2 separate regions of the Homo sapiens genome follow, and region 1 is linked to region 2. Evidence: fine-mapped expression QTL. A gene starts in region 2. The other region holds a variant in brackets. All regions are shown on one strand. Distances are between the middles of the regions. Region 1 overlaps GOLPH3L (golgi phosphoprotein 3 like). Region 2 holds the start of CERS2 (ceramide synthase 2).

What was found. PIP is the estimated chance that this variant, and not a neighbour inherited with it, causes the effect.
Region 1: its variant is fine-mapped to the expression of CERS2 in lung (TOPMed, PIP above 0.99).

Annotation. Positions count from the first base shown.
Region 1 is chr1:150,645,067-150,647,566 of GRCh38, forward strand. GOLPH3L (golgi phosphoprotein 3 like) reads right to left here. Exons shown (of 5, transcript NM_018178.6): 5 at 1,164-2,500. Among named protein-coding and RNA genes, the nearest start is that of ENSA, 17 kb to the left of the region's middle. RefSeq lists an enhancer at 1,799-2,300. The variant A/C (reference allele first, on the strand shown) is at 1,090.
Region 2 is chr1:150,972,959-150,975,971 of GRCh38, forward strand. CERS2 (ceramide synthase 2) reads right to left here and starts at 1,877. Exons shown (of 11, transcript NM_022075.5): 1 at 1,661-1,877. RefSeq lists enhancers at 95-1,026, 984-1,128, a cis regulatory region at 1,056 and silencers at 1,232-1,721, 1,742-2,181.

The DNA of each region.
Region 1 (2,500 bases), 330 kb before region 2:
ATTTGCCCACATAAATGTGCATTCTTGGGAGCTAGAATGGTGCCCTATGCAATGTTTTATTGTCAGTGCCTAGCAAGTGCCCATCAATTTGTAAGTACTCAATATTTTTTTGATGAATGAATTATAGACAATAAGATATAGGGTGGCGTTCTCCAATTTTAACATGCAAGCTTTTAGAGTTTCTTTTTTTTTGAGACGGAGTCTCGCTCTATCGCCCAGGCTGGAGTGTAGAGGCGCAATCTTGGCTCACTGCAACCTCCGCCTCCCAGATTCAAGCAATTCTCCTGCCTCAGCCTCCTGAGTAGCTGGGATTACAGGAGTGCGCCACTATGGCCAGCTAATTTTGTATTTTTAGTAGAGATGGGGTTTCACCATGTTGGCCAGGCTGGTCTTGAACTCCTGACCTCAGATGATCCGCCCGCCTCGGCCTCCCAAAGTGCTGGGATTACAGGCATGAGCCATCGCGCCTGGCTGAGAATTTCTTTAAAATGCAGCTTCCTCCTAACTCCAGAGACTGATTTACTAGGATCTGCATTTTAGCAAGCTACCCTCCTATCTCACACACACATTTTGGTGCAATGGTCTTTGCAATATACTTTGAGAAACATTGTATAAAGCATGACTTATGGAAATAGTACTTTGTCTTAAATAAAAATATTAGAAAAGTATAAACAATCCTAATAAACAAATGTATTATTGTCCCTTGTGCTATAGATAAAGAAAGGGAGAACAATAAGCCAATTATAAGCACACTTACATTTTTACATGTTAACTCTGTTATAGTCAGGCATGTCACCTACATTTGGAACTTAAGATTTTCAACTCCTAAATTCAGGTGTCATTTGCAAGTAGATATTAGTAGAACAGATCATATTCATTCTCTTCATGGTAATAATGGTATAATTGGCTAATTTATTTTGATTGAGATGGAGACACTATTTAGGCTTTATAGTATTAGCTGGTGTTCATGTGGTCAGCTTTTGACATGTCCTGCCCCTCAGCCTATGTATGTTACAATTGTTTTTGTATCCCTCATTTTCTACATAGGATAAAACAAGCTGGTATGCTAGTGTAAAGGGGGAGGCATTA[A/C]TAGCCTTGTGTAGAAAGTCCTTAGTTCCAATTAAAACAATTTAAATTATAAAATTGTGCACAGAGAGACCAGAGAGCTGATAATTGATCTTTATTATACAGAAATGTGAAGGCCATAAGCATTAAATGAGAAGGAGTTTGGCAGTGAACATTATGCAGATTCAAACTGAAGGTATCCTCGTCTTACTGAGATATAAAAATAAACACTAAGAGTTGCAAGAAAGAACTCAATTCAACTTCTATCTCCCAATCAAGCTATAACTTTCCACAGGAAAACCTGGTTTCAATTCATGCCGAATTGTTCAAAGAAAAGAAAAAGCTAAATCAGTTAGAGACAACACATGGACTGGCTTTTGTCCTATTAGAGAGCCAGACTGAAGCTGTATTCAGCCTCACATTTAGAGACTGTTTCCTATTACAATTTATATCTCTATTTGCCTAAGAGATACCTAAAGTGAAAAACAAAAAAATGTTAACTGAGCTGGGGCATTTTTGTGGGGCTAAGTAGATTTGGCAGAGGAGAGAAATGAATAAATAATTCATTTAATTATTTCTAATCAAGAGGATTTAATGTCAGGTCTGGGTCATCTGTATTAACCCTTTGACAGTTTGTTGTTCTATAATGGTCAAGAAGCACTATCCCATTAAAGTATAATAAATGCTGAACATCAGCACAGCTCAGTGCACATCCTCTTTATATCCTCAAATACTGGACTTTATATCAGCATGCTTTCAATACCAAATTAGCCCTTTAAATAGGATCTTTCTTAATAAAGCTTCTCATTGCCCTCACTACTGAAGTAAAAAACGTGTTAGAGATTTGGCCAGAAAGATGGTTTTACTGAAATAAGACTGATGACTAGGAGCACATCTATGGATTAAATATAGACAAAACTACTCCCAGAAACCTTAAATATAGACAGACTTTATTAATTTATGTAGGAAGCCAAAAATAGGAAATAAAAAGATCTGGAGTTCAGATATACTGATATATTCAGCAACTGAAACTTACAATTCCTTCAATTCAGTCAGAGCAGAGACATTTAAAGTAGTCTGGAGGGGTGGGTGCAGTGGCTCAAGCCAGTAATCTCAGCACTTTGGGAGGCTGAGGTGGAAGAATTGCTTGAGCCCAGGAATTCAAGACCAGCCTGGGCAACAAAGCGAGACTCTTGTCTAAAACAAACAAAAAAAAGCTGAGTATGGTGGCACGTGCCTGTAGTCCCACTTAGTTGGGAGACTGAGGCAGGAGGATCCTTGAGCCCTGGAGGTCAAGGCTGCAGTCAGCTGTGATTGCACTACTGTACTCCTGCCTGGGCAAGAGCAAGACCCTGTCTCAAAAGAAAAAAAAAAAAAAAGTGGCCTGGGGGAAACAGGACAGTCATATACCCCAAGAATGGAAATTTTCATGCCA
Region 2 (3,013 bases):
CAGGTGGTCAGTCTGACTGGCTCTCATAGTTTGGAAGAATAACTGAGGAAAATAGAAAGGAGTTGTTGACAAGGGAGGAGTGACAAAGGTCCCACCGGCTCCCTGCTTCCACTGAAGAAGTCCTGAATAGTCTTCCTTGTTGAAAACTTTCAGGCAACAGAAGCAGGTCATGTACTAGAAGTCTACAAGCCATGGATGGAGCCAATGAGAGGTGTGTTATCCCTCCAGGCTGCAGGATGGGCCTCAAAATAAGCCAGATTGTAAAAAAGAGGTGGGTGAGAGGCAGTCAGAACAGTAGTCCTCAGCCTCATCTGGCCTACAGCTTGTCTGCAAAGTCCCACCAAAGGCCTCCACGGACCAAAACACTGCATGAGACTATGGCCCCAGGGGCAGGGAGACGCCGGTGGGTTTGAGAGACAGCTGGGGCGGTGTTGAAGGACACAGTGAGGGATCAGCCAGCCTATGGCCAGTGACAGGGGTAAAAGGAGGCCCTTCCTCCCAGGGGAAAATCTGGCCAGAGGCCCCAGTGAGGGAAGTGGGGGACCAGGGGAGAAAAGGATCCCTCTCTGGAACAGACTGTGCAGATCACGGTATGGTCAGCGCCAGGTCCTCAGGGACAGGACTGCAGGCAAGTCCTTACCCTTAGGAGCCCCTTTACATGTGCAGCCACTCACACCCCGGTGCGGTCATCCCGACTCCGGTATGCGGCAGCAACCGCCACCCACCCCTGCCCCAGCACAGATATGGGGGTGACTGCCTGCTGGAGGCCTGCTCGGACTCACTTCTCCAGGAACAGGGGCTCACTGCATTCGCCACGATCCTCAGAACCCCCTGAACCTGGGCCTGGCAACTCAGGTGACTGAAACCAGGTTTTGATGCCAGGAGCTAGGCTTAGGGAGGGAGAGACTCCAACTGCAGGCTAAAGATGAGTGCTCTACACCTGCAGTCAACCCACTTGCCACGGGCCTCTAGTGATTAACAAGCTACGGCCCAGAAAGCCAGTTCCACCAGGAGCTCCCTTGCCAGCCATCCACACCTCATAACGGTATGCCTTAGCCCTACCGGGCCGGGGCAGGCGCTCCGGGCCGCTCCTTCCTGTTTCCCGTTAAGCACATGGAAGCTCTGACCTCGCCTGCGAGGTGGGCACGGTGGGCCGGTAGGAAGAAAACGGGGCAGGGCCCTCCCCTCTCCTCCCACCCAAGCCACAGGACGCGTCCAGGCCAGGGCAACCCCGCGGGCCGCTGCCAGGGTGGAGGCTCTCGCGCCAATGGTCACCAAGCTCCTCCACTCCCCAACAAAGGGAAGCCCACGGCTCGGCCCCGTCGCCCGCAGCCCCCGCGTCCCCACCTTCCGCCCTACCTGTTGCCCGGGAAAGCTTCTCCGGCTCAGGGCGGCGCTGCCGCGGACACCGCGGCGCCAGGCCCGCCGGCCCCGGCCGCTCCCTTGAGGCGCTGCGCCCGCCTTACCCGGCGGCCGCCGCCATGAGCGCCCGCAGCGCCCCCCGCCAGCGCCGCCTCCCTCCTCGCCCCGGCCCCGCGGCCTTCCCAGCCCGACCCCTCCGCGGCCCCGCGACAAAGCGGCACCCGGGGCTCCCAACTTTTCCGCAGCCCCTTCCCACCCCCGCGCGGGGCTCGGGCGCCGGGCGGGGGCCCCGACTCACCCGGCGGCAGCGTTGGCGGGGCCGGGGCCGCTGCTCCGTGTACTCCGTCTGCTCGGGTGGTTGCTCCGAGGCCCCGAGGCCTGGCTCCCCGCGCCTCTCCTCCCTCTTCCGCCCGCCCGCCGGCCCGCGCCCGCCCTCGCCCTCCCTCCTCCGCCAGCCGCCGGCGCCGCCGCCGCCGCCCGCCGAGCCCAGTCGAGCTGAGCCCGAGCCCAGCCGGGAAAAAAAGGCCGCGAGCAGCCCAAGGGCCGGGAGGCTGGGCGTGACGGGAGGGGAGGGCGGGGCGGGCCTCTGCGCTGCGGCTGCCCCTTCGCCCCGGCGCGGGAGGCCAGACCCCAACCCTCCGCTCCCGGCCCCACAGCCGCGTCCACGCCCGTCACCTTGCGCTAGAGAAACCGCCGACCTGGGGAGGCGGGTGCGGGCTCCTTCCGCCACTTCGGTCTCTTTTCGGGGTGGGAGGTCTCCCACTGGGACCGACACAGACGCACTGGATGCCGCGGGGTCCCGGGCTCCGAGCGGCGGTGTCCCTGTCCCCTTACTCCTACCCACCCCCACCCACCCCCAACTGCTGTGCGGCCCCCGGTCCCCGCCAGGGTGGGCACATTCCCACTTCCAGCCCCACGGGGCGCGGGCGGAGGAGGGTGCAGCCCGGGGATCCTGCCCAAGTGCCTCGCGCCGAAGCTGAAAACCTCTCCAGGGCAGACCGAAGCAGCCGACCCTCGAGACCCAGTCGGAGCCTGCGATCACTCGGGCGACCCTCGCCTACCCCGCCGTAAAAGCCGCGGCCTTTCCACCTAGGTGCTACGGGACCTACCCCCGTGGCAAGGAAGAGCAAACCCGAACTTGCGCACACCCGGCGGCCCTGTCTGAAAGAGCCACCCCAACTTTTGTTTTGTAAAATGTATGAGTTTTCAAATGACACCACGTTTATCCGTATTCGATTTCGTGTTAAAAAGTGTTTTCCGGCCGGGCGCGGTGGCTCACGCCTGTAATCCCAGCACTTTGGGAGGCCGAGGCGGGCAGATCACCTGAGGTCAGGCGTTCGAGACCACCCTGGCCAACATGGTTAAACCCTGTCTCTACTAAAAATACAAAAATTAGCCGGGCACGGTGGCTCGCGCTTGTAATCCCAGCTACTCGGGAGGCTGAGCCACGAGAATCGCTTGAACCCTGGAGGTGGAGTTTGCAGTGAGCCGAGATCTCGCCACTGCACTCCAGCCTGGGCGACAGAGTGAGACTCCGTCTCAGGAAAAAAAAAAAAAAAGTGTTCTCCCCTTGGCCTGGCGCCGTGGCTTATGCCTGTAATCTCAGCACTTTGGGTGGCCGAGGTGGGCAGATCACTTGAGGTCAGAGTTC